Linked DNA regions of Homo sapiens: regions 2, 3 and 4 are each reported to be linked to region 1. The links are microRNA targets in miRTarBase. Many come from high-throughput screens and were not tested one by one. Region 1 holds a microRNA gene; each other region holds the end of a gene's coding sequence. Distances are from middle to middle.
The links. The annotated mature microRNA hsa-miR-548ac reads CAAAAACCGGCAAUUACUUUUG and lies in region 1 at 2,991-3,012, opposite strand. An mRNA with a match to its seed (bases 2 to 7 or 8) in the 3' UTR can be bound and repressed. Matches are read on the target gene's strand: a 7mer-m8 pairs with bases 2 to 8, a 7mer-A1 pairs with bases 2 to 7 and ends in A, and an 8mer does both.

Region 2: the mRNA of HSBP1 is a reported target of hsa-miR-548ac. Seed matches in the 3' UTR shown: 7mer-A1 at 3,552-3,558 and 7mer-A1 at 5,936-5,942.
Region 3: miRTarBase lists RNF2 as a target of hsa-miR-548ac. Seed matches in the 3' UTR shown: 7mer-A1 at 2,452-2,458, 7mer-m8 at 2,462-2,468 and 7mer-A1 at 2,761-2,767.
Region 4: miRTarBase lists DENND10 as a target of hsa-miR-548ac. Seed matches in the 3' UTR shown: 7mer-m8 at 6,041-6,047.

The regions. Positions count from the first base shown.
Region 1 is chr1:116,557,048-116,564,170 of GRCh38, forward strand. It overlaps MIR548AC (microRNA 548ac), which reads right to left and starts at 3,064; the gene lies at 2,977-3,064. The region is part of intron 1 of CD58 (CD58 molecule); the gene reads right to left. It overlaps LOC105378925 (a long non-coding RNA gene), which reads left to right. Exons shown (of 3, transcript XR_947739.2): 3 at 1-4,140. RefSeq lists enhancers at 1,531-1,580, 2,632-2,871, 5,471-5,620.
Region 2 is chr16:83,808,776-83,815,878 of GRCh38, forward strand. HSBP1 (heat shock factor binding protein 1) reads left to right here. Exons shown (of 4, transcript NM_001537.4): 3 at 530-650; 4 at 2,646-7,103. The coding sequence ends at 648. Among named protein-coding and RNA genes, the nearest start is that of HSBP1, 4.3 kb to the left of the region's middle. RefSeq lists enhancers at 4,153-4,664, 4,665-5,176, 5,177-5,688.
Region 3 is chr1:185,099,370-185,106,475 of GRCh38, forward strand. RNF2 (ring finger protein 2) reads left to right here. Exons shown (of 7, transcript NM_007212.4): 6 at 422-593; 7 at 831-3,234. The coding sequence ends at 932. Among named protein-coding and RNA genes, the nearest start is that of TRMT1L, 54 kb to the right of the region's middle.
Region 4 is chr10:119,136,120-119,143,242 of GRCh38, reverse strand. It overlaps DENND10 (DENN domain containing 10), which reads right to left. Exons shown (of 9, transcript NM_207009.4): 9 at 5,259-6,772. The coding sequence ends at 6,596. It overlaps SFXN4 (sideroflexin 4), which reads left to right. Exons shown (of 14, transcript NM_213649.2): 14 at 1,924-2,476. The coding sequence ends at 2,001. Among named protein-coding and RNA genes, the nearest start is that of SFXN4, 26 kb to the left of the region's middle. RefSeq lists an enhancer at 295-796.

The sequences.
Region 1 (7,123 bases):
GGACAAAGGTGTTCCTGTTTTTGGCTGTATCCCCATATGTCTGGCATATGGACTTTCAATAAATATCTGTTGAATGAATTAACTAAAATGATTAAAATACAACTTAAATGTAGTTCAAAAGATAAGGCTTCCTGACAGAATAGCAAAATTTGACAGTCACCCCAAACCCTGGGCTTTGTGAAATCCCAAATTGCTGTGGAACCTGGCTGAAGAAGGAGGACTTCGTAAGGAGAGATGGAGAAAGAAGTTTAACTGGAGCTTAAAAATAAAATGGCTCAGGAGCCCTCATATACAACCAAAACAGACTCAGTTTTTCAGCCCCACTTTCTGCCTCATCACCAAAGCAAGATGGGAGGACCTGCGGGCTCCACCTTCCCAACTCCACAGCTGTCCCTTTTGAGATGTTCCCTCTCAAGTTTAAGTAGATTTTACCAACTAAGTGTTATAGGATGCAGGGCACCACACCAGATAAACTTGTACCCACTCATGGATGTCAGCCCCAATCAAACTTAACAGCCTCGCTATGGTTTGAGGAGGTTCACTGATGTCATTTCTTTCTTTTCTTTCTTTTTATTTTTCTCTTTCTTTCCCTCTCTCTCTCCCTCCTTCCCTCCCCTTCCTTCCTTCCTTCCTTTTTCTTTTTGGAGACAGGGTCTCATTCTGTCACCCAGGTTGGTGTGCAGTGGTGCAATCGTGGCTCACTGTAGCTTCAACCTCCTGGGCTCAAGTGATCCTTCTGCCTCAGCCTCCCAAGTAGCTAGAACTACAGTTGCATGCCACCACGCCCAGCTAATTTTTATATTTTTTGTAGAAACAAGGTCTCACTATGTTGCTCAGGCTGATCTCAAACTCGTGGGCTCAAGTGATCCTCCTCCCTGGGCCTTCTGAAGTGCTGAGATTACAAGCATGAGCCACCATGCCCAGCCAATGCCATACCTTAGAGACAAGCTAATCACTCTTCCGGGATTTGAAGGAAAGGGTTTTCTTGAGTTTGTTCTTAGAAATAAACAATGTAATTTTAAGATACTTCTCTCTCTCTCTCTAAAATATTTTAAGGCTCACACTGCCTGCAGATTTTAGCAGGTAAAGTAAAAGTTCATTTGACCAAAAAAAAAAAAAAAAGAAAGAAAAAAGAAAAATTCCCTTAAAAGTTTCAGTACCTGAATATATGAATATTGGTATTTCCCTCTGAATATAAGACATCATAATGGTGATTCATTTAAAGCCTCGTGCAAGCCCAGAGATAGCAGGGTCTTGGGGCATTTTTGCTCCCAAGTGAGCAGATGGATTTCTCATCTGGATATGGGTCACTGAGCACAGCCTTGTCCCTCTCACTTCTCTGCGTTTGGTCTTCACATCACGGCACATTTTCAGTTGATGCCTACTTGCAGTATCAGGATGTGTGGCAATCTGGGAAGCAACATCTCTATCTACACACCCATATATGCATTTATAGTATTGAGGAGCGGCCAATCTCCTAAAATGTCTAGGCTAGTAATTGTATCAAATAACCTGTCCTATTAAGGCCATAAATATTCTCATATTAGTCAGTCCCAATTTTGGGGGTAGAAAATGTGCTTACCAGGCATGGAGATAATAAAGAGGAGTAGCACTGTTTGTTTTAACTCAATCAAGTTTCATACAGTTGTGACTCTTGCCTAGCTCTTAGCAAGTCCAATCCAAGGAGCCCTAGGCCAGCTCAGCCTCAGTAATAATATTTAACAGTAGCAGCAGCACGAAGATTCACTGCAGGCTTACTATGTGACAAGCACTTGTTCCAAGAGCTGTTTGTGTATTAACTCATTTAATCCTCAACTCAACTCTGAGGTAGTTCTTATTATTCATTTATTTGTTCATCAAATGTTCATGGAGTCCTGCCTATGTGCCAGACACTGAAATAAGCAGGCAGGATATAGCAATGAACAAAACAGACAAAATCCCAGCCCTCTTGGAGTCTATTTTTCAGTGGAGGGAAGAACATAATAAATGAAAAAGTAAATATCTTTTATTTGGATGATGTTGGATGATGTTAAGTGCTATAGAGAAAAATAAAGCAGAGTGTGGGGGCTGAGGAGTACTGGTAAGGAAAGGAGTTGGATGGCATGGGGGGCAGTCATAAGTTGGCATCTGAGCAGAGTCCAGAAAAGCAGGGGAGCGAGCCTAAGAACATCTGGGGTGAGAGTGAGAAAGGAGTTATTTCTTGAGAACACGCCTATCAAAGTAAGGTGGTTTGCTCCGCTGGACACTTGGTTGATAGAGAAGGTCAAAGATTCCGAAGCACCAGGCTACAGATGAAGAAATGGACTGAGAGGGTCAGCTGACTGCATTCACTCAGCTAGCAAGGGGCAGAGCTGGTGTCCAGACACAGGCAGTCGGCCCCAGAGCCTGCACTGTTGGCCAGAACATCAGATGCCTTGGTTGGGGCCATTCCTCTTTTTTCCTGATCGATTCCACCCTTAGCCGGTCCCAGTTAGTGACTTCTCTTATTTCCTTAAGACAGAGATTTACTGATTTCAGCCACACCACCACCAGTTTCCCTGCCCTCATCTACTTCATACTGAAACTGCAGCCACCTGTCTCCCAACGGTTACAAACCCTCGGTCCCCAAGGCCAGAGCAAGGTTCCCGGACCTTGCTCTCAGCTGTCAATCTGCCTCCTCGATAAGTTCATCAAGAATTAAGATGTTGGTTCTCTAAATCAACTTCTTTCTGTACTTTCCTTCTAATATGATGCTAAAATAGTTTCCTTTTTAATTCTTGTTCTTGCACTTAACCTATTTCTTCTTTCTCAAGATGTTTCCCTTTAGACCTATGCAATCCATCAAAGTAGCTACCAGCTACAAGTGGCTAGTGAGAACCTGAAATATGGTTAGTTCAAATGGAGATGTGTTCTGAGTATCAAATACACACCAGAATCTGAAGACCTGGTATTAAAAAGTGGAACATAAAATCTCTTGTTAATATTTTTTTGTAGTAACTACTAGGTTAGTGCAAAAGTAATTGCCGGTTTTTGCCATTAAAAAAAAATAGCAAAAACCACAATAACTTTTGCACCAACCTAATACATGTCGAAATGAAAATATTATGGATATATTAGGTTAACTAAAATATATTATTAAAATTAATTTCACATGTTCCATATTATACTTCTATTTGAGAGCACTTCTTTAGCCTGTTGTTTCAAGACACTCACATCCCACCTTTCTCAAAGGCCACATTTGTCTTTGACTGTTCTCACCTTAGATAGGATACAGCTGAGATCCACAGTATGCTTTAGGGAATAAGGTTCTTACTAGATCGGTTAAGGCTGTGAGTGTTTTTAAATCTATTCTCCAAAGTCTGATTCAAGGTATTTCAATACAGTACTGATCATTTCACTAAAATTCCTTGAGAATCCTTGTTATTTTCTAGATACTCAGTTCATCGTTGGGAAACTCTATTGCAAGTAGTTTACAATGGCACAGCCTCATTAGTTTCTTATTAATCTGATTTTTTATTTTTTTCTGAATGTGTATGTTAAACTTCAATTTTCTTCTAATTTTTAACTGGCATAGGAAGAAAATGTTCAAGAAACTACAGACTGGTCAGCCCAGTGGAAATTCAGGCACTAATCTCAACAGACATTTTGGGGAACATTGTAAAGTAAGCAAAGTTCACTAGAACCTATAAAGTAACCAAAAAGCATTTTCCTTGGAGGCTGATGGGCAGGCACTGAAAGTTATCTCCAAAGAGGAACTGCTAAAATGTTTTCCCCTCCTTTTCTAGGGACAGTCTCTGTATCTTATAGTCACACTTTATATTCAAACCTGAACTTATCTGAGAAAAGAGAAACGGCTGCATCCTGGTTTCACTTACAACCCTGAGATGGAAGTTGAGATTTGTCATTGCAGAATTTAAGGGTCTGTGTCCTTAAGTAAAACCTTCTGGTCACCCCTCAAGTAAAGCTTCAAAAAAGCTTAGGCACTTGTGCAGAAACAGCATGAGAAGAAACCAAAAGGCAGAAAACTTACACATATAAGGGCTGATTTATGCAAAGTTTCTACTTTTAAACAGAGAAACCAATACCTACCCTCAAAGCCTGTATTTACTAAAGAAATGTTAGAGTGACAAGGAGGTCAATAAAATAAATTATTCAAATCTGGTTCTTAAAAAGAGGTTCTAAGACTATTTTAAAACTTCTGAAAGATGCCCATCAAAATTAAAACAAAAAAACATAGCAACGAATACAATGAGTGAAACTTGATTAGATCCGGGTTTTTTAACAAAAGACACTCTTGTGACAAGTGGGGAAATCTGAATACGGGTAAAAGTTAGGTGATGTTACAGGATTAGTGTTAATATTTATAGATGTTATGATGTTATTGAGATTATGCAAAAGTGTCTAGGAGTGAAATGTGGGTACCTAGAGAATGTAAATATAATAATGTTAATAATAAATATGTCAATAAATTGCCATTGTAAATTCTATGTCCCAAAGAAGCACCCCTCACCATTACAAATTATGATATTAAATACAATTTTGCATGACTGGTAATTGTGCTGACCTATATTTCCCATGTTTTAGCAGAATTTCATTGGACAATGTATACATGTTGGATATAAGAAATCAGTAGTACTCATCTTCAAAAAGTTGCTTAGTGGATCTCAGGCTAGGGATACAACAGAGCATATAAAGGAATAGGTTCTGATTCAGAGAGAATCAAAGTTCAAGTTCACTCTGCCACTTATTTGCTGTGTGAACTTGGACACATTACTGAACCTACCTAAGCTTTGTTCTCCTATTAAATGTTCCCTATGTAATAAAATCAGTGTGACAATTAAATAAAAACATCTCAAATCTGAAGCATAGCTCCTGGCACAGAGCAGGTACTTACCTCCTAGTGGCTATTATTACTTACACTCTGTTATAACACTGGGCCTAGTTTTCCTATAGGAACACACAACACTATTTTAACTTGGATTATCTTTGCTAAATAAAAAAACACAGACTGTCTAAGTCTCAACTCCAGCAAAGCACATGAACAAGTCTCACATAATAATGTGAGATAATTTCAAATGGAGAAATGCTGGACAAATACATTGTCATCTAATGTTCAGATTCAACAATCTTTACTATTAAAAAAAAACAGATCAATATAAGGAAAATTTTAAAAAATAATACATGACTTCTGCATACAAGGAACTTAAAATCTAGTTATGCAGATAGTTGGCAATAAAGGATCTGTAAAATGTCAACAACAGCAGAATAAGACAGACTCTGTTAATAATAAAATAGTTCCTACCTTTTTATTTTTTATTTTTTTGCTCTGTTACCCAGGCTGGAATGCAGTTGTGTCATCATGGCTCACTGCAGCCTCAAATTCCCAGACTCAAGCAATTGCCAGGCTCATCTCAGCCTCCTGAGTAGCTGGGACTACAGGCGTGCACCACCACACCTGGCTAACTTTTTGTAGAGATGGGGTGTATTAGTCCATTCTCGCACTGCTAATAATGACATACATGAGACTGGGTAATTTATCAAGGAAAGAGGCTCAATGGACTCACAGTTCCACATGGCCAGGGAAACCTCACAATCATGGCAGAAGGCAAAGGAGAAGCAAAGTCATGTCTTAATGGTGGCAGGCAAGAGAGAGCGTGTGCAGGGGAACTCCCCTTTATGAAACCATCAGATCTTGTGAGACTTATTCACTATCACAAGAACAGTATAGAGGAAACTGCCCTCATGATTCAATTATCTCCACCTGGCCCTGCCCTTGACACACGGGGATTATTACAATTCAAGGTGAGATTTGGGTGGGGACACAGCCAAACCATATCATTCCACCCCGGCCCCTCCCAAATCTCATGTCCTCACATTTCAAAACACAATAATGCCCTTCCAACAGTCCCTCAAAATCTTAACTTATTCCAGCATTAATCCAAAAGTCTAAATCCAAAGTCTCATCGGAGATAAGGCAAGTACCTTCCACCTATGAGCCTGTAAAATCAAAGGCAAGTTAGTTACTTCCTAGATACAATGGGGGTACAGGTGCTGAGTAAATATATCCATTCCAAATGGGAGAAATTGTCCAAAACAAAAGGGCTACAGGCCCCATGCAAGTCCTAAATCCAATAGGGCAGTCTTAAACCTTAAAGTTCCAAAATGATCTCCTTTGACTCCATGCCTCACATCCAGGTGACGCAAGAGATGGGCTCCCACAACCTTGGGCAGCTCTTCCCCTGTGGCTTTGCAGGGTACAGCCATCCTCCTGGCTGCTTTCATGAGCTGGCATTAAGTGTCTGTGGCTTTTCCAGGTACACGGTGCAAGCTCTCGGTGGATCTACCATTCCGGGGTCTGGTGGATGATGGCCCTCTTCTCACAGCTCCACTAGGCGGTGCCCCAGTGGGGACTCTGTGTGGGGGCTCCAACTCCACATTTCCCTTCCACACTGCCCTAGCAGAGGTTCTCCATGAGGGTCCCACTCCTGCAGCAAACTTCTGCCTGGACATCCAGGCATTTCCATACATCCTCTGAAATCTAGGCAGAGGTTCTCAAACCTCAATTCTTGACTTCTGTGCATCCACAGGCCCAACACCACATGTAAGCCACCAAGGCTTACCCTCTGAAGCAACAGCCTGAGTGGTATGTTGGCCCCTTTTAGCCATGGCTGGAGCTAAAACAGCTGGCATGCAGGGCTCCATGTTTGGAGGCTGCAAAGAGCAGGGGGGCCCTGGGTCCAGCCCATGAAACAATTTTTCCCTCCAAGGCCTCCAGGCCTGTGATAGGAGGGGCTGCCATGAAGGTTTCTGATATGCCCTGGAGACATTTTCCCCATTGTCTTCGTGATTAACATTTGGCTCCTCATTACTTAATGCAAATTTCTGCAGCTGGCTTGAATTTTTCCTCAGAAAAGGGGTTTTTCTTTTCTATTGCATCATTGGGCTGCAAATTTTTTGAACTTTTATGCCCTGCTATCCTTTTAAACATAAGTTCCAATTCCAAACCACATCTTTGTGAACATATAAAACTGAATGCTTTTAACAGCAACCAAGCCACCTCTTGAATGCTTTGCTGCTTAGAAATTTCTTCCACCAGATGCCCTAAATAATTTCTCTCAAGTTCAAAGTTCCACGTATCTTTAGG
Region 2 (7,103 bases), not on the chromosome of region 1:
GTGGGCCTTTGGAGCCTATTTGCCGGGCAGTGGTGGGGATAAATGAGTAGTTTTCAGGCTAGCTTCAGCCATTCACTTGTAGAATTTGAGCTTGGATTGTACTGTGTTTCTGAGAAGGACTGCGCCGAGAGCTAGGGGCAAAGCTGAGTTAGACTCCTGGCTCAAGGAGCATACGTCTACCAATCCTAATAGCTGGTGTGGTGGACCATGCACTGTGAACTAAGCGCTTTTGTGTGTGTCTTTTGATGCTCAGCATGACCTTATGAGTGGGTTGTAGTGTTATCATCTTTAGCAAATGAATAAATTGAGGTTTAGGGGTTCCATCACTAGTAAGGGTCAGGGCTGGAATCCGATGCGGGGTAGCCATGCCCCACAGTCCTGTACTCTTACCCACCAGCGTGTAACAGTGTCGAAAGAAAATTGGAAGACCAGTTTCCCTAAAGTCGTTGTGTTTAAGGCTGTAGTCTGCAGGGACGGGAGGAAAAAGGCTCAATGAGATGTTGGCACGCGTTGTCTTTAACTTCAGCACTTGATGATATGAGTAGTCGCATTGATGATCTGGAAAAGAATATCGCGGACCTCATGACACAGGCTGGGGTGGAAGAACTGGAAAGTGAAAACAAGATACCTGCCACGCAAAAGAGTTGAAGGTGAGGAAGGGGGCAATTTTTTTTTTCTTTTCTTTTCTTTTTTTTTTTTTTTTTTTTTTTGACACGGAGTTTTGCTCTTGTTGCCCAGGCTGGAGTGCAATGGCACGATCTCGGCTCCCTGCAACCTTTGCCCTCCTGGGTTCAAACGATTGTCCTGCCTCAGCCTCCCGAGTAGCTGGGATTACAGGCTTGTGCCACCACACCCAGCCAATTTTGTATTTTTAGTAGAGACGGGGTTTCTCCATGTTGGTCATGCTGGTCTCGAATTCTGACCTTGAGTGATTTGCCCGCCTCAGCCTCTCAAAGTGCTGGGATTACAGGTGTGAGCCGCCGTGCCCGGTCTTTTTTTTTATTTTGTCTTAAAAGAATAGAGAGAACCTGTAAGTATAATTTGTATGTAGTCAGACATTCTGTAGATCAGTTCCCAGCCATGATCCCAGCAAGCATCACTGTATTGTTTACCTGCTGTGGACTTGATGTTTTGAAATTTTTCATGCCAAACTCATTCTTTACACCGAATTTATTTTCCCAGTTTTTATTAATTAGACTTCTGTCACTATTAGTGAAGACCACTGGCTAACATTAGATAACCACTGAGTTTTTATCATTCCAGCTAATAATTAAGGTGTCTTTTTGTTGGCCTATAAAGCCTGTCACTGGAAGATTTTCCATTGCTTTTTTTTTTTTTTATGGAAATAACTGATAAGTCACCCACATTACCACCTTCTTAAATGGCTTAAATTCTGGAGACTTTCTTGGTAACTTGACATAGGTGAACTAGATTGTGGCCACATTAAGCTTTTACCCTGGAGTTCATTTAAATTTCCTCTGAATAGTTTCAGATGTCAGAGGAAAGCCTAGTAATTCAAAGTACCTACACAGCAAGATAGGTAAATGTACAGAATCACTCAGCAGAGTGCATGGTGATCCTTTTCCTCTGTATGTGTGAAAAATAAGTTTTAGACTCACTTTTCTCTTGTTTCATTTATAACATTTTAATTCTCTATAAAAATGAATGTTGCTGAGGGAGGCGGAGGTTGCAGTCGAGGTCACGCCACTGCACTCCAGCCTGGGCGACAGAGTGAGACTCTGTCTCAAAAAAAAAAAAAAAAAAAAAAAGGTACTGGTGCGTGGTGACTCATGCCTGTAATCCCAGCACTTTGGGAGGCAAAGGCAGGCAGAGGGCAGATCAGTTGATGTGAGGAGCTCGAGACCAACCTGGCCAACATGGTGAAACCCTGTCTGTACAAAAATTAGCTGGGTGTGGTGGTGCACGCCTGTAATCCCAGCTACTTGGCAGACTGAGACAGGAGGCAGAGTTTGCAGTGAGTCGTGATGATGCCACTGCACTCCAGCCTGGGAGACAGAGCAAGACTCTGTCTCAAAAAAATAAAATAAAATGGTTCCTGAGTATTTTTAGATTCGTAGAGTACTAAGCAGAATGTACAGTAAAACATGCCTAATTTCCTATTTTCTGGGCTTGCTGTGGACCACATTTTAAGTCACTGTGAAATACAGATTTGGGATGTTGAAGACAGACTCTAAAATTTGCTTTTATCTTCACAGTAGGTGGGGTTCATTCACTGTGTGAGTAAATCACATAACTGCTTTCTATGGGTTATGTCATCGTTATTCTTATCCAGAGATAATTTGGAAAAATGTCCTACCAGTCTCAGATGCTTCTGTGGGTCTCTTTTTATATTATGTGGCAATCAAAACTGCCATCAACTGACTGATTATCTTACCACAAGAATTTCAGGATGGTAGACTGGCTAGTGATGGGGGTCATTCAAAGAAAAGAGTGGGAGTAGGAAACTGACTCTGAAACTTTTAAAGATATTTCCAGTTAAATCTATTGCTAAAATATTGCCAGAAGAAAATAAGTTTAACTCAGTAGGAGAGTGGAAAGGGATTTGTAGTTGATAGGTCTATATGTCATTTTTACTTGTGCTCATATAATGAAAAACATGTTGATGATTTTTCCTTCTTCAACAGGTTGCTAATAATTTATACTGGAATCTGGCATTTTTCCAAGCCAAGAGAAGATCGAATGGCTTTTTGCAGCTAACTACTATGTGTAGACAGGTTTTATATTATAAAGTATGCATTCTTATCACCTAGTATATAGTTAGTTTGTAGAGTGATTTCCCCCCAGTTTCTTGAACATGGTATCTTCACATCTTGGACCTTGGTCAGTTGTGCTATTCATTATTAAACACTAAAACTTTGGCGGTTCTTGCATAACATTGTCAGATTTTTTAGTGTATTTCTGTGAAGTCATTTTTTTTCTTGTCATTCCTTTTGTAGTAGTTGCTGTTTGGATAAAAGTTGATGTGTGATTTTTTATTAAACAAATAGTAAACCCTTCAATTATAGTTAGTCTTGGTGAAGTAAGATGTTTGTAGACTTTAGAGTTCTTTAATTCTTGGCACAACGTGACTGTTGAGCTAACACCAAATAGTGTGTTGGCAATACTTTTCAAATGGCTGAAAACACCTAAAAATTGTTCATTCAGAAATATCTGTCACTGCTCTGTTGCCAAAACTCAGAATAGAACTTAGACGTATGTCTGAGTCCCTGAGATCACATGCTAAAGTCGATGAAAAGTAACCACTGCCACTGTCTTGTGTCAGAACTTTTACAGTACAGAAAATAACAGAATAGCCTTCTGTAATGAGGCGTTTGTTAGAGTTTTGCATGAGATTCTAATACTTCAGTAGGACCCTACCTACGTGGTTCATCTACAATGGTTACCATAAAAAATCTGGCAGGATTTTAAAACTCAATCAGTCTTTCCTTTGAGCTAGTGACTTGAAAAGAAAGAGAGAAGGAAAAGAGACCATATTAAGTCCATGCCAGTTGCTTGGCTAGAATATGATCAACGACTTGTAGTAGACTCAAGTTTTTAAAAAACACTATTTTACTTAAACTGTTTCTTATCTAAATTCTTGCAGAGTGTCAATGTTATCATTGATTATAGAAGACAGGGATAATACCTTTATCTCTGGCCACTCAAAAATGCAGTGCCAGGAGTGCTAAACCTAGAGGCCAATACTGATGACCTGGAAGGTGATCCATATGATTGTCACCACAAAGTGCTTTTACACAAAAACTTGAAAATTTGAAAAACATGATTTTTTTAAGTTTCTCATCTCACCAGTCTTGGTGTTTATATTGCAAATCTATCAAAGTAAGAAATAATTTGTGCTGTATACAAATTACATGGGGAACATAAAGGAGTGAGATCCTTCTGTGATAAAATGAATTCACCACTCTGGTTACCCAACTACAGAACCTCCTTTGATCAGGCCAGTAGGTTGTGATGCAGGCTGGAGCCCCCGAATGCCCCACACACACTGCAGCATTGACCAGACCATCCGAAACCTGCGTCCCTGGTGATGTTCTCAAGCCTCGGAAGTGGCAAATGGAAATGATATGGCCGGTTGCGGTTGTAGGAGAGTTGTGACTTAGGCAGGAGTCGACCTCCTCAAGTAATGGAACGATTTCAAAGGCAGGCTGCCCTGACCAAAAATATCTGCCATGAATAAAGGTGCCTGAAATCCTGCTATGAAGCTTCCTTTGTGTCAAAAATCTGTTTGGTTTTCAGATGGAAATGCAGAAATCACATTAGAGTATCAACTAAAACCTCTGGACGGATTAAGTACAAGTAGCCCAAGGCAAAGCAGGAGAGGGGGTGTTGGGGGAGGTTGCCTGCTGGAAGGGGAAGCTGAGGAGCGGGAGGAGGGCTTGCCAAGACTGGCATTGCAGGAGACTTGTCTCAGGTGTGTTCCCAGAACTCTTGCCCCTGGAGATGCTGCAGGAAGGAAGGGGTTATGGTCACTTGGGTTTAGACGACATTCTGTGAACCTCATGAAGAAATTAGCATATTAAAGACTCTGAAAGTAGAGCAGAGAACTCAGCTTTAACCTGCTCACCTGCTAGTTTTCGAGGTCTCGCTCTGTTGCCCAGGCTGGAGTGCAGTGGCACAGTCATAGCTCACTTGGAGCCTGAAGCTCCTGGGCTCAGGCAGTCCTCCTGCCTCAGCCTCCCAAGTAGCTAATATTACAGGTTCGTGCCACCGCACCTGGGTCTTGCTGTGTTGCCCAGGCTGGTCTAGAACTCCTAGGCTCAAGCAGTCCTGTCTCAGCCTCCCAAAGTGCTGGGATTACAGGCTGGAGCCACCATGCCTGTCCAAGGGTCTTTTTTATACTATATGAAGTATTCCTTCTCCAGCTATTCTTGTTCGTTTACCAGCCAGTGAAGATTCTCTTGAGGGCTGAACAATACAGATGAGTATGGGGGCCCTCGCACCAAGGAAAACAGCGTTACATTTAATTAAGTGCCCTGTCTCAAACCCCAAGGCCCCACAGCTTCTTCATTTGGCCCCTAGTTCATCCTGCTTTCCTTTGAGCCACAGGATTTTAAAATATTTCAATCTTATTTTCATATCAATTTTTTCTTTGTTTCACTACAAGTACAGTCATTGTTTAACCCTATCAGGACTAACACAATATTTCACGTAACTAAGAGTTAATTTGCCCTTGTGAGTCCTTGGAATTTAAGCCCCACACACACACACTTAGAGCACTGTTGCTATGGGAACATAGAGTCCTCCAAACAAAAGTGAACTTTTTCAACATGCTGTTTGTAAATGGAAGCCTTCCCAAGCAGACACTGTGTTCCTCTTTTATTTTGTATTTTGCACATTATATATTTTGATTAGATTAAAATGGAGGAATTTGCAGGATGTGTTGTCATATCTAGCCCTGAAAGTTAACTGGTTACAGTTACCAAATGTTCACAGCTAGCGCCATTGAAAGCATTGACTGTAAACCGCTGTACTGTGCTAAGCCTTTTGTTTGCACTGTTTGGCTTAATCCTCACAACAACACTGAGAGGTTTTCATTTGATGAGTCATATTTAAAGAAAAGGAACCCAAGACGGGGAGTCAGGGGCACAAGGTCACAGCTGGTAATGATGACCCTGGAATGTCCTCACAGCTGCACACCTGCACCGCTCACAAACACAGCTGACCGTCTCACAGCTGCACACCTGCACCGCTCACGAGCACAGCTGACCGTCTCACAGCTGCACACCTGCACTGCTCACGAACACAGCTGATCGTCTGCCTCTTCGTGTGAGCTGAGCTCCGAATCTCAGCTGTCCAGGCTGTCTGGAAATCATCAGCCCCACTGGCTGGATCTCAAAATTTACTTTCAAAAGGCTGATGGAGTGTTTTCAATTAAACATGACCTAAAATTAAGTAATAAACACACTGGATGTGAGTTTTTATTTGGAATTTAAACTATTCAGAGCTGGTAGAAAATGTGTGCTCCTGGATCAGTGCCTTTTTTCTCCTAAATCAGTTGAGAACAACAACAGAAACAAATGACATTCCTCAAACATTTGCCCAGAGCACAACCACGGGGAATATGAACCACAGGTTTTCACATTGGTTTTCCATGCCTATACCTGTCCTGTCTCCCACAAAAATTATTGCTTGAGGCCCAACCCGGGGGATAAAAAGACACCCCCCCGCCACTCCGTGACCTATTAGCTTACCATCCTATTGGATTTCACTGTTTTTTGTTTTGTGGTGTTTTTTTTTTATTGCAACGAAGACTTTTAAATGGACTCATGAAGAAGCCATCACCTGGAATCTTAATCTTGCATTAATTTTAAGTGTCTGATTTTAGCTGCAGCCACTTGAGAACTTTTCAATGAATGAAAATGAGGGAGGGGAGATGCAAGTCACTGCCCAAAAACAAAACCAGAGGAATTGTGATTGAACATTGCACTTATCAACCCTACAAATTAATATGGAAATAGGAAAAGGGTTTGTTTCAACAAGTCAGGATGACAGTATTTTAAAAAAGAAAAAAAGGCCAGCCTGGGCAATATACTGAGACTCCATCTCTACAAAAAAGTAGAAAAATTAGCCCAGAGTGTGGTGGCACACATCTGTGCTCCCAGCTACTCAGGAGGCTGAGGTGGGAGGATCATTTGAGCCCAGGAAGTCGAGGTTGCAGTGAGCTGTGATCGGACGACTCCACTCCAGCCGGGGTGACAGAGCAAGACCCTGTCTCAAAAAAAAAAAAAAAGGGCGGATCCTAACGCTTGGTCCTCACACCTGAGGCTCTCACTAAGAGGTGGCTGGAAGCTCCTCAGACCGCTGCCTAGGGTTCGAGTGATCCTGAAAGCTGTACAACATCAGCCTCTGTGGGATCCCTGAGAATGATGAAATGTAATATGTGGCTGTCTCATCAACAGAGCTTCATTTTACCAAAGCATATGTAGACACCACATACATGAACTACATACCTATCGTGTAGATGCTGCCCTGCCTCATAAGAACACTCTTGACTGTCCTGCTTCACAATAATAATCTTCGCAATAATGATCTAATAATGGTCAAATTCTGTGTCTCTACCGTAGAAAACAGAATTTGACCAT
Region 3 (7,106 bases), 69 Mb from region 1:
GTCTTAAAAGACATTTTAATTCTTAGACAATAAGAAATTTGCTTCTATTCTGTTTCTGTTGCTGCTATAGCCAGCAGATTCTGGTCATTAGGGTTTGGGGGGTATGTTCCTTTTTTTCCCCTTAGTACTTTGTGTATTTCTGTTTGATTTTTGTCACTGTGTATCTCATTTTATAGAAGGTAAGGTAGGTAAAGCTTTTGTGACCTGACAGTAAGATATTGAGTATTTACTTTCCCCTCTTCTGTACCTATCAATAAGAAATTTAGATTGTAGAGCAGTAAATTTCTGATATTATTTTGTCAATAATTGAGACATTGCCATTTTACTTAGTTTTTAAGAAATGTATTAGTTCCATAATTTAAGTACATTTTTCTCATTGGCATATTCTAGAAATGAAATTTTTAATGATTTATTCTTCTAGATACATAAAGACTTCTGGTAACGCCACTGTTGATCACTTATCCAAGTATCTGGCTGTGAGGTTAGCTTTAGAAGAACTTCGAAGCAAAGGTGAATCAAACCAGATGAACCTTGATACAGCCAGTGAGAAGCAGTATACCATTTATATAGCAACAGCCAGTGGCCAGTTCACTGTGAGTATTTAAAATAATAGACTGTTGAAACTGGGAGCACACTGACCAACTAACTGAGTGGCAAGTGGTGGGGTAGAATCTAATAAATAATGTAAAAAACCGTAACAGTGTTAAGTGACAAGTAGTTATTCCTAAGATTTGAAAAAAAAAGATTCTGTGGACTTCCATTTTAGTTTCATTTCATTATTATTGTGGTTTGTGCAGTTTTCATAATTTTTTCTTTCTTTTTTGTTTTAGGTATTAAATGGCTCTTTTTCTTTGGAATTGGTCAGTGAGAAATACTGGAAAGTGAACAAACCCATGGAACTTTATTACGCACCTACAAAGGAGCACAAATGAGCCTTTAAAAACCAATTCTGAGACTGAACTTTTTTATAGCCTATTTCTTTAATATTAAAGATGTACTGGCATTACTTTTATGGACAGATCTTGGATATGTTGTTCAATTTTCTTTCTGAGCCAGACTAGTTTACGCTATTCAAATCTTTTCCCCTTTATTTAAGATTTCCTTTTTGGAAGGGACTGCAATTATTCAGTATTTTTTTCTTTCCTTTAAAAAAATATATCTGAAGTTTCTTGTGTTTTTTTTTTTCCCCACAAAGTGTGTTTCCACTTGGAGCACCATTTTGACCCAGGAATTTTTCATAGTTTCTGTATTCTTATAAGATTCAGTTGGCTGTCCTTTTCCTGCTCCCCTCAAAAGATTTTTAGTCATACAGAATGTTAAATATTATGTATTCTGACTTTTTTTTTCCCCCGGAGTCTTGTATATTTATAGTTTTCTATATAAACTGTAGTATCTTCATGAAGACCCAAGGCTCAAATTTACTGTCCTTAAAAACAATTCTCATAGGATTATTCTTTTCATGGTATTTTCTTCCATAATATCTCATTTTAAAAAGAAGTTCTTTATGAACTTAGTGTCCATTGTCATGCAATGTTTTTTTTTTTCCATTCTTTTTCCCTGTAATTTTGGAATTTCTGGTCCTGGGAAGAATCAAACAAAATCTTAAGTTCTATGAGAACTTGGTTCATTGACATATTCTGCTGAAGAAAGAAAAATTAAATTGGTAGTAAAATATAGTCTTCAAGTATACGTTTGAGAGTGCTTTTTTTTGTATTAGTTCTGCTGTCACTTCATTTCCTGTATTATATGTGATGTTTTTCCCCATTAAAATACCAGAGATAATGGAGATATTTTGCACTTTAGCCTTGATGAAAAGTACAAGATATGTTCAAAGCTTCCCTAATTTTTTTCTTATTTGTAGCCACATAAGTTTCAAGAATAACATGGCACACAGAACAATGGAAAAAAGTTTGTTTCCATTGGAAAATTATATCATTTTGGGTTGCCACATCAGTTTATAAATTTGGCGCTCTTTTAATTACACTCTGTAGAAGGTTAATAGAGCTTGAGCCCTGCTTTAATATGTAGTGAAAGATAATTCTGTAGAAAAACGTCAGCCAGTAGGGTAAAGTCATTCTACTGTTCTTAATTTTTATATTGAGGAACAATATTGGGTGTTTGGGAGCCAGAAAGCTTTGTTGACAGATCAGAAATAAGATTGACTTGGGTGTTATATTTCATCTCTCTCCAGACTCTAGGTATATTTCCAACTTTATATATCACAGTATTTAAAAAGACATGTTTGCATTGAGAAATTAACCCTAAAGGGTTTTCAATAGGGTGTAGACCTCCAGTACCTTTGTAACTAAAGTCTGTCTAGTCATTGTAAATATTTATCTGTCAGTTTTGACAGATTGGGGCCAGCTTGATGTTTTAAATCTTCAGCCCGGTATGAAAACTTAAAGGTATATATTCAATTTTTTACCATTTTATGGAAAATATTTAAAATCTGTTTTTACAGGGTTTTTTTTTTTTTTTTTTTTTTGTAATCTGTGCCATGAAATTTGAAAACCACCAAAAATCAAGGGAACTTTTATATATTCAATTCCTTTTCTGGTGTAATGTTAAAGTTGTATAGATTATTAATGCATGCCCACTGAATATAACCCTGGTTTTGTGATAAAACTGCTTAGATTTTGTTGATGACATTAGATTAGTAGTTGCATTAAATAACTAAATTCCCATTGTGATTAATTGAAATTTTGTCTTTAAGCAGAGAGTTATTTGTGACTATAAGCTTTGTGCTTAGAGAATGTATGTGTTTTTATCTGTCAGTATGGGAGGATATAAACTGCATCATTAGTGAAATTATTGGTTGTGTAATCCTTTGTGAAATATAATTCTAGGTATTTGATAGGGTATTGAGTGTATTTTGTGTGTGTGTGGATGTGTGTTTTGGGGTACGGGGAGAGGCGATGCTATTGGCCATCACTACCAACCAGGGTTTCAAAAAGTATTACCTAAGTAATTTCTTTTATCACTATCTCAACTGAGGAAGAAAAGGCTCACCACAAGTGGTGTGAAGGCTTTGGGTACTTAGTTCTAAATTTTTTTATGGTAACATATACATAGCCACATTTACAGTTTTAACCATTTTAAGGCATGTAATTCAGTGGGGTTAGGTACATTCACAATGTTGTGTAATGATCACCGCTGTCTACTTGTAAAACTTTTTCATCACCCCAAACAGAAACTCTGTGTGCAATTAAAGTAATGCATTTCTCTTCTTCTTAACCCCTAGCAACCTCTATTCTACTTTCTCTTTTTGAATTTGTCTATTTTAGGTGCCTCATGGCACCTGTGGAATCACACATTATTTTCAAGGTTCATGTGATAGCATATATCAGAATTTCATTCCTATTTATGGCTGAATAATATTGTATGTATGTGCCACATTTTGTTTATCCATTCATCTGTTGATGGAGACTTTTGGTATTGTGAATAATACTGCAGTGAACATTATTATAGAAGTATATAATTGAGTTCTGCCTTCTGTTATTTTGGGTATATATGAAGGAATAGAATTACTGCATCATATGATAATTCTATGTTTAATTTTTTGAGGGACTCCAAACTGTTTTCCATAGCAGCTTCATTATTTTACATTCCTGCCACCAATGAACAAGCGTTCTGGCTTTTCCGTATCCTCTGTAACACTTGTTATTTTCTTTTCTTCTTTTTAAAATAACTATATTAATGGGTATCCTTATGATAGCTGTCTTACTGGATGTCTCCTTTCATTGTGGTTTTAATTTGCATTTCCCTAACAGCTTGTGATGCTGAGCATCTTTTTCTGTACTTGCTGGCCATTTGTGTATTTTCTGTGGAGAAATGTGTATGTGTATTCAAGTCCTTCACCCATTTTTGACTGGGTTCTGTTATTGTTGAGTTGTGGGCATTCTTTATTCTAGTTAGTAATCCATTATCAGATACATGATTTGCAAATATTTTCTCCCATTCTTTGGGTTTTCTTTTGATTCCCTTGATAGTGTCCTTTGATGTACAGAATTTTTTTTATTTTGGTGAAGTCTAGTGTATCTGTCTTTTTTCTTTTGGCTATGCTATTGGTGTCATATTCAAGAAGATTGCCAAACCCAATGTCATGAAGATTTTCCTCTTTTAAGAGTTTTATAGTTTTAGCTCTTAGTCTTTGATCCATTGTGAGTTTTGTATATGGTGAAAGGTCAGTGTCCAGCTTTGTTCATTTGTATTTGGATATCCAGTTTTCTTAGCCTTTTCTCCACTGAATGATCTTGGTGCTCTTGTTCTAAATCATATGTGAGGGTTTATTTCTGGATGTTGTATTCCATTGGTCTATATGTTTGTCCTTATGCCAGTACTACACTATTTTGATTACTTTAGCTTTGTAATAAATTTTGCATTATATCATTTCTAACCCTTTGAACCTTAGGAAGACAGTATTTCCTTTGTGTACATTTGAGAAGACAAAGGCTCAGGATTCTGATTTGGATAACTAAATGTGAAGTAACTGAAATGCCAAGTGAGAAAAGGCATCTCTTAAATTCCCATTTCTATTCAGAAAAGTTTAAGTTTCCCCCAAAATAGCCTCAAAACTCCCCAAAAATCACACTCCAGTGAATTATCACTCTTGGCCTTTCTGGAACCTCACTGAAAAGCTCTTTTTCTCTGAGCGTGTCTTTGACTGGACTCAGCTCACTTTGCTTAAAAAGCTCTATCTTCATGGTGTTTGTAAAAAATCGTTCCTGCCGTTGTTTAACACAGCAGTTGCCTGAGGCATGTGGGCCTAAAAAGCAGCTGACTAAAAAGTAGGAAATGTAGAGGGCTTTGAAAAGTTCCATTATGTTCCTGGGAATCTCGAAGGCCACACATTTGTGCAAGACTGTTGGCATGCCCAAGAAAAAAATATAAGGCACTAACCTCACCTGTAGCAGACCCTGAGGCTCTGTGCCAGCAGGAAGTGAAAGGTAAGCCACAGTTGTAAACTACATGCTGGAGTTTTGAAGGCATATCCCAGACAGAGCACTTTAGCAAGACAGAGACTTACTGGTTCAAAGCATTTAAGGAAATCTGTCTAGTTATTAGCTGACCACTAAGCTAATGAAGCAGACTTCAGTGGTCACAGCAGAGAATGCAAACATTACAGAGTTAGTCAAAAGAAGGCCACTAAACAGCAAACACAACAAACCCTGGGGACCTAAAGGGATTCTCATTTCCAGAGTTGCCACATTGTATTATAGTCTTCCCCCATTATCCAGTTTTGCCTTCGTGGTTTGTTACCCATGGTCAACTGCACTCTGAAAATACTAAATGGAAAATCCCGGAAATAACTCATAAGTTTTAAACTGTACACCGTTCTGAGTAGCCTGAGGAAATCTTGTGCCGTTCCACTTGGGACATGAATTATCCCCGTGTCCAGCATATCTTTGCTGTATATGCTACTCGTTCATTAGTCACTTAGTACCTGTTAACGGTTCCCAGATTGATTGTCATGGTATTGCAGTGTTTGTGTTCATTTTACTTAATGGCCCCACATTGCAAGGGTAGTGATGTTGGCAATTTGGATATACCAAAGAGAAGCCATAAACTGCTTCCTTTAAGTGAAAAGGTAAGAGTTCTTGACTTAATAAGGAAAGAAAACATAAATTATGCTGAATTTGCTAAGATCTATGACAAGAACAAAGCTTTTTTCTATGTCAAAGTTGAGACAGATCTCATGAAATTGTGAACAGTATATTATGATTGTATATTATTAGTTGTTGATCTCTTACCATGCCTAATTTATAAACTTTACCATATATGTAGGTGTAGAAAAAAAGAAGTACAGGGTTTGGTACAGCCTGTGGATTCAAGGATCCACGGCGGGGTGGGGGGATCTTAGAACATACCCTCAAGGATAAAGGGGGGACTATTTTAAAAGCCTAGTTTTCAACAGAAAATTACAAGACCTATAAAGAAACAGAAGTGTCTGTGAGGAAGTCCAGATGTTGGACTAATTAGACAAATACTTTGTCAGCTTTTAAAAACATGTTCAGAGAACTAAAAACCATGTCTGAACTAAATATGAGAGGAATGTCTCACCAAATAAATATCAATAAATTACGAACAAACCAAATGGAAATGTGGATTGAAAGATAAAAGAATCATAATTTAAAATTCACTAGAGTCTCAACAGTGGATTTGAACTGGTAGAAGAAATAATCAACTCGAAGACAGGCCAATTGAGAATATCCTGTCTAAAAAACGAGTGAAAAAGAGTGGAACCTCAGAGACATGTAGGACACCATCAATTGTACTAGCACCCAGAATTGGAGTTCCAGAAGGAGAGGAGGGAAAGGGGCAGAAAGTGTATATTTGAAGAAATAATTGCCAAAAGCTTTAAAAATTTGATGAAAAACATTACCTGCACATTTAAAAAGCTCAACGAACTACCATATAAATTCAAAGAGATCCACAAAACTAAGAGTACTATGAACAGTATGAGAAAATCAATTCATAAACAAGGGGTCCTAAATAAGATTAACAGCTCACTTCTCACAATAAGCTATCACAGAGGCCAGGATGCAGTGAATGACATTCCCAAGTACTGAAAGAAAAAAATAGCCAAGAAATCTGTATCAGTAAAATTATTCCACAAAAACGGAGAAATTAGTAAGACATGCCCATATAAACAAAAACAAAGACTATCACTAGCAAACCTTAACCACAAGAAATACTAACGGGAGTTCTTTAGGCTGAAATGAAAGATTAGATAGTAACATGAATCCACACAAAGCAATAGCACTGGAAAAGGTAACTGAATAGTTAAAATATAAAAGACAGTATAAATGTGTTAGCTCAGGCTGCTATAACAAGGTATAGACCAGACAGCTTAAACAACAGATACTTTCTTCTCATTCTGAAAGCATGGAGGCTAGAAAGAAGTTGCAGAATATTTTCCAGGTGCTGAAAGATAACTGCTAATCCAGGTACCTTAGCAAAAGTATCCTTCAGTAATGAAGGGGGAAGAATTTGCTGCCGGCAGACCTGCCCAAAAAAGAATGGCTAAAGGAAATTCTATAAACAGGAAGGACATGATAATAGAAGGAACTCTGGAACATGATATAGGGAGAAAGGACGCAATGAGA
Region 4 (7,123 bases), not on the chromosome of region 1:
CACGTGAGGCTGCAAGGAACAGGCAGGATGCTGGGGGCCAGGTGGCAGGGCCTGCACAGCCAGGCCAAGGAGCAGGGCAGCAGGTAAGTCATGCAAGGTTGGAAGGGGCAGAACTCCCAGAGGCCAGAGTGGAGGCAGGAAAGGGAGTCAGTCTCACGCGTGACCTCAGATGCCAAGACTTGCTTGCTGGACTTTGGAAATATCCTGTTGGGGCCGGGCGTGGTGGCTCATGCCTGTAATCCCAGCACTTTGGGAGGCCGAGGCGGGCGGATCACGAGGTCAGGAGATTGAGACCATCCTGGCTAACACAGTGAAACCCCGTCTCTACTAAAAATACAAAAAAATTAGCCAGGCATGGTGGCAGGCGCCTGTAATCCCAGCTACTCGAGAGGCTGAGGCAGGAGAATGGTGTGAACCCTGGAGGCAGAGCTTGCGGTGAGCCGAGATCGCGCCACTGCACTCCAGTCTGGGCGACAGAGCAAGACTCCATATCAAAAAAAAAAAAAAAAAAAAAAATTCAAAACATTAGCTGGACGTGGTGGCGGGTGCCTGTAGTCCCAGCTACTCGGGAGGTTGAGGCAGGAGAATGGCGTGAACCCCAGAGGCGGAGCTTGCAGTGAGCCGAGGTCGCGCCACTGCACTCCAGCCTGGGTGACAGAGTGAGACTCCATCTCATTTAAAAAAAAAAAAAAAAAAGACACAAAATATCCTGTTGGCTCAAGGAGGGCATGGAGGTGCTTAGATGAGATAAGGAGTTATTACTAATTTTGTTAGGTGTGACAATGACATAGTAGTTTTGTAACTACTGTCATTACTATATCAAGTACTATATCAATAATGATAAGGTCTTTATCATTTGGAACTTGTAGGTGACATGACATGAGAATTGCCTTAAAATACTCAAGGAAAAAAATCCTACTGCTGGGTGTGGGAGGTGCTTGATGAAATGAGATCTGCAAATTGTTAATAGTGATTCCTGAGTGAGCACATGTGAGTTCATTACATTCCTTCTACATTTGTTTTTTGTTTGTTTGTGTGTTTGAGACAGGGTTTCTCACTCTGTTGCCCAGGCTGGAGGGCAGTGGTATGATCATGGCTTACTGCAGCCTTGACTCCCAGGCTCAAGTGATCCTCTGACCTCAGCCCCCCAAGTAGCTGGGACTACAGGAACGTACTACCACACCTGGCTAATTTTTTATTTTTTGTAGAGATAGGGTCCCACTATATTGCCCAGGCTGATTGCAAACTCCCCACCTCAAGCAATCCTCCTGATCTCGGCTCACTGTAACCTCCACCTCCCAGGTTCAAGTGATTCTCGTGCCTCAGCCACTGGAGTAGCTGGGATTACAGGTGTGTGCCACCACACCCAGCTAATTTTTGTATTTTTTGTACCATGTTAGCCGGGCTAGTCTTGAACTCCTGGCCTCAAGTGATCTACCTGCCTCAGCCTCCCTAAGTGTTGGGATTACAGGCATGAGCCATTGTGCCCAGCCATCTTAAAACTTTTTAATGGAAACTTTCAATTATAAACAAATGTAGAGATAAGTAAATAACAATAATGGGCCAAGGATGGTGGTGCGCGCCTGTAATCCCAATCCCAGCTACTCGGGTGGCTGAGGCATGAGAATGACTTGAACTTGGAGGGTGGAGGTTGCAGTGACCTGAGATGGTGCCACTGCACTCCAGCCTGCGCAACAGAGCAAGACTCTGTCTCAAAAAAAAAAAAAAAAAAAAAGTTTAAGAAGTTTCTTTACTGCTTGGGTGATTAAAAAAAAAAATAGGTTACATTTTCTGCTATAGATTAGACATTATTGAAAAAGATGGACTGTGAAATGGTTGCTTTCAGAAAATGATTTTTTTAACTTGGCTTCTAAGGCAAGAAAAACTATTAATAGAAACATTATGAATTTAACTATTTTTCAGATACAGTACTGTAGTCTTGAAGAGAAAATTCAGTCTCCAACAGAAGAAACAGAAATCTTTTATCACAGAGGGGTGTAGGCGTGAGTTTTAGGTGAATTTATGTGGTTCCTGCTTGAAAACCTTCCCCTCTCCAGGTTCGGTTTAGAGAACTTTGCCACAGGTCTTCTGGGGACCCCAGAGGTGTCTGTGCTGACAAGGCGACTTCAGATTCCATACTGAGATCGTTCCCAGGCTGGCGTCTCTGGGGTTTTTAAGGCTGGCTGGAGAAGACAGTGGGAGGGTGCCCCGTCTGACACCCCTGGGGTTGCTGAGGGAACGGTTGGAGTGGGGATCGGCCTGCGAAAGGATACTGTGAAATCACTAATTAACTAATAAACCTGTCTCAAGTTGAGGATTTGAAGAAAGAACACAGAGTCCACCGTGCCCAGGACACAGGTGTTAAATGGATAGGCCGTCTCAAGCGGAACACGTACCCCTGGGGCGCTGTTTACGCCCTCCAACCCCAAAAGCAATCTTGTTTCCTTACTCAGTGTCCTCCATTCTAGACAGCTACTTAAAACCTTTGCCGCCCTCCGCCCAGTGCCTCCTTTCTCCTCTCTGGCAAAGGACCCTGCCTCCTCCGCCAGGAAACAGGTCAGCAGTGGAGCCCCCCACACCCGCACCCACACCCATCCTTCCTCCGTGTAATGCCAGCGTCCTCCAGGCTCTGGGCCTCTCTCTGCTTCCTCAGGGCTGTGCTCTGTAGCCTCTGTCTGCCAGGTCCTTCCCAGAAGTATGTAAACTACTTGTCGGCCAGGCGCGGTGGCTCACGCCTGTAATCCCAGCACTTTGGGAGGCTGAGGCCAGTGGATCGCCTGAGGTCAGTGGATCGCCTGAGGTCAGTGGATCACCTGAGGTCAGGAGTTCGAGACCAGCCTGGCCAACATGGTAAAACCCCGTGTCTACTAAAAATATAAAAATCAGCCAGGCGTGGTGTTGCGCACCTGTAGTCCAAGCCACTCAGGAGGCTGAGGCAGGAGAATCACTTGAACCCTGGTGGCGGAGGTTGCAGTGAGCTGACGTCATGCCATTGCACTCCAGCCTAGGCAATAGAACGACTGTGTCTCAAAAAGAAATAAACTGCTTGTCACCTGCCTCATTAGAGACAGGATCTTGCTGTCACCCAGGTTGGAGTGCACTGGCACAATCAGCTCACTGCAGCCTTGAACTCCTGGGCTCAATGAGGACCCACCTGCCTCAGCCTCCTGAGTGGCTGGGACTACAGGCGCCTGTCACCACGCCTGGCTGTAGCCAGACACTTTAAAAGAGTTGTCCGCCCTCACTGTCTCCACCCCACCTCCCGTTCTGCTAAGATTTCTCTCATCCGTGACCCACCTGAATGTGGCACTGCCACACTGCTGGGCACTCAGGCTGGTCACTGAGCTGCTTACTTGGCTGTACTTTGCCATTTGGATGTCCCAGACACCTCAAACTCAACCCATCCGAACCTGAGATCAGCTCTCCCTCCCAGTCTCAGGAATTGACACCACCACCTCCCCAGGTGCACCAGACAGGATCACTGGAGGCGCCCTCTCCCCACCTTACCAGCCTATGCAGTAGACAGGGCCCAGTACATGGAGTCTGGAACCCACATATGCCCACTGCTACCACCCAGCGCAGTCCAACAGCATCCCCTGCTGGCACTGCCTGGCCCATCTCCTGCCTACTCCCTCCGGTCCACGTTCCAGCCTGCTCTTCTAAACCACACCTGCTGAACAACTGTTTTTTTTTCTTTTGAGACGGAGTCTCACTCTGTCACCCAGGCTGGAGTGTAGAGTGCAGTGGCGCGATCTTGGCTCACTGCAACCTCCACCTCCTGGGTTCAAGTGATTCTTGTGCCTCAGCCTCCTGAGTAGCTGGGACTACAGGCATGTACCAGCCACCACGTCCAGCTAATTTTTGTTTTGCTTTTTTTAAGTAGAGATGGGGTTTCACCATGTTGGCCAGGCTGTCATCTCCTGTCCCCGCGATCCACCCACCTTGGCCTCTTTAAGTGCTGGGATTACAGGCCTGAGCACCGCACCGGGCCTGAAAAGCCTTAAATGGCTTCCCAGTGCGTCAAGATCAAGCCCACCTTCCTCACCACAGCAAGCCTTTCCCATACTCGTATCCTGCCACTCCCTCCCCTCCCTGTAGACCCTCCAGGTCCTCACATGGGCTGTGGTCTCTTCTCAGGGCCTTCACACAGCTGTTTCCTCTGGTCTGAGTAGATGTCTACTTAATGCTTCAGGCCTGACTTTGACATTGATCACTCCCTCTGGGAGGCCTTCCAGGATTGACAGCACTGAACTGGGTCCCCATCTATGTGCTCCAATACCACTCTGTTTCACACATCACGCCTAGCACTAGCCACACTACAGCAGCCTGTTTGCTGACCCTATTCCCCAAGCGGACTGTGCGCAGCACCGCGAGAGCGGGAGCTGCTGCCCATCAGGGTAGTTCAAAATACAACACAGGCATGGCACAGAGTAGGTACCTCAACATTTGAGTACTGGACTAATGCTTCCAACACACCCTACCCCACATTACCAAAGAATTTATCTGTGGTTTTGTTTCCCCAAGGCCAGTATGATGGTTCATTTCCAAATTTGGTGAGGAAAGTTTCATAACAGCCTAAAAGGACAAAATCAGTAAATGGCTCAGTTTGACCATAGGCTGACACTAACCAAAATTAAAGTTAGAGAACAAGATGGGCAACAGCTGCAGGTGGAGGTTTAACCGCTAACAGATGACAGAAATGTGAAGGCATCTTCCAAGGACAGGAGACTGAAGTTACAGAGGCAGCTCCAGGAAGGCGAGTGGAGGAGGGCTAGGGCGGGAGGAAAGGGTGTGTGGGGGACGGCTTGAACTTTTTTTTTTTTTTTTTTTTGAAACCAAGTCTCGCTCTTTTGTCCAGGCTGGAGTGCAATGGTGCAGTCTCGGCTCACTGCAACCTCCGCCTCCCTGGTTCGAGCAATTCTCCTGCCTCAGCCTCCCAAATAGCAAGTAGCTGGGATTACGGGCATGTGCCACCACACCCAGCTAATTTTTGTACTTTTAGTAGAGATGGGGTTTTACCACGTTGGCCAGGCTAGTCTCAAACTCCTGATCTCAGGTGATCCGCCCACCTCGGCCTCCCAAAGTGCTGGCATTACAGGCATGAGCCACCGCGCCCTTGGCCGTCTTGAACTTTCAGACAGGTCTTTTAATAATTCCCTAGCGCCCTCACAGTTGAAAAAAGGTATTTTTTCCCCATTTTCTTTGGAATGAGCAGTATTAGAGAAAGAGGGGACAATTCGTCACCCACCTAAAAGTAGTTGAATATCAAAATATATCAATTTTATTTCTGCATCATAAATTTATAATTTTAACAACTTTGATCATTAGCTAATATAGTAATACAAAAAAATGAGAAAAAAGATGTTAATATTCCTCATTTCCATAAAGTGCAGATTTAATTTTCAATTATTTGCCTTAGTAAACATTGTCTTATTTCAGGTACTCCCTGCCCTCACTCAAAAAAAAGGGAGGGTGTTTAATTTTTATTGAACAAATATGTAATACCAAGAAAAAGATGAAAGACCCAATAATGTTTTTTGCAAACATGTTTCCAGGTAAGATTTCCAAGGACATCAGTACTGAGTGAAAAATAATCCTTTACAGTCAATATGAATGAATACACTAACAAGTACATCATTTAGATCTCCATGCTTATTTGGCAATTCCAGTTATGAAAAAGGTACATAAATAGTACAAACAATTGGCTTGACATGTGGCCAAACTACTTTCATCGAAGTTGCTGGAAGCCTTTCTCTGGTTTTGGCCCCTGTAGGAAGTTAATCTCATATTCCCTTAGCAATAATATAAGGTCACTGTTTCAGTCCTACACACTTTTATATTCAATGGGCTTCTTAGTTTATCACATAAGGACTGGCACTTTTTTCAAAAGAATATTGCTAACAGGGTTAAATGAGTGCTAATGGCTGAACGTTTGCCAAATGCTTACTTCTGCGATAGTATAAATATGGATTATTAAAGTTGTCTACTCAAGTATAAAATATATGCAAAACTCTCATAGGCAAAATGTTCAAAGGCCGGGAAAAACCTTTTTTTTTTTTTTTTTTTTTTAACTTTTACGAGAAAGTGCAACTGCAGGGTCTCTTGAATGATCTTCTAGACAGTTCCGCAGAAAATTAGCAGTTTGGCTCAGAAAGTAGAGTTCCTCAGGAGGAATTAAAGTTCTTCCTAGAAGAATACAAAGCAACGTTTCAGGCAGCTTTCTGAAAATAAACCATTAGCTTATGCCTACACAGCGAGACAAACTGGAACGTGTAATAATGAAGGCTTTCACATTTGTTGTGATGTGCTTTTTTTCTCTTACCCCAGGACCTCTAGCTGTTCTGTAATGTTACATAAAGTAGTTATAGCACTTCGTCCAGCACTGACAGCAGGCAGGAAGCTAATCAGCGAGGAGAAAATCGGAAGTGTGTTCATGTGTTTCATTGTTTTTCAGGTCAAATCTCAATACTTGCAAATAAATCATTAAAAAGATATAACAGTTTCTCTGTTATTTTCAGGACTTCATGTAGTGAGTGGGTAATCAGAGTGAAAGAGGGCTTTCTATCAGTCATCAGTGATACGTTCTGTCACACAGTCAGATTTTCAGCATTTGTTCGGCTGCTGCTAGATGATAAAGGAAGTTTTCTGTTGCTGGTGGAAATCGTTTTTGCTTTAGCGCCTCCAAATTAAGGACTCTCTTTTCTCCATCAGCCGAAACTTCTGAAAACGGTGCTAGGTTGGTAAAGATTTCTCTTGTTTTTAGAGCAATATCCTTTAATAGAACAGGAAAATATATGCAACATGTTAGTATCCGAAATTTGAATATTTAGTCTCTAGAATTCTTCCTATTTTTTCCAGACTGTTTATAAACTATGAAAAATGAGCTTGGCGTGGTGGCTCATGCCTGTAATCCCAGCACTTTGGGAGACCGTGGCAGGAGAATGTCTTGAGTCAGGAGTTAGAGAATGCAGTGAGCCATGATTGCACCACTGCACTCCAGCCTGGGCAACCCTGTCTCAAAAACGAACAACAAAAAAGATAACTCCTTTTTTTGTTGTTGTTTTCGAGACAGGGTCTCGCTCTGTTACCCAGGTTGCAGTGCAGTGGTTCAATCATGGCTCAC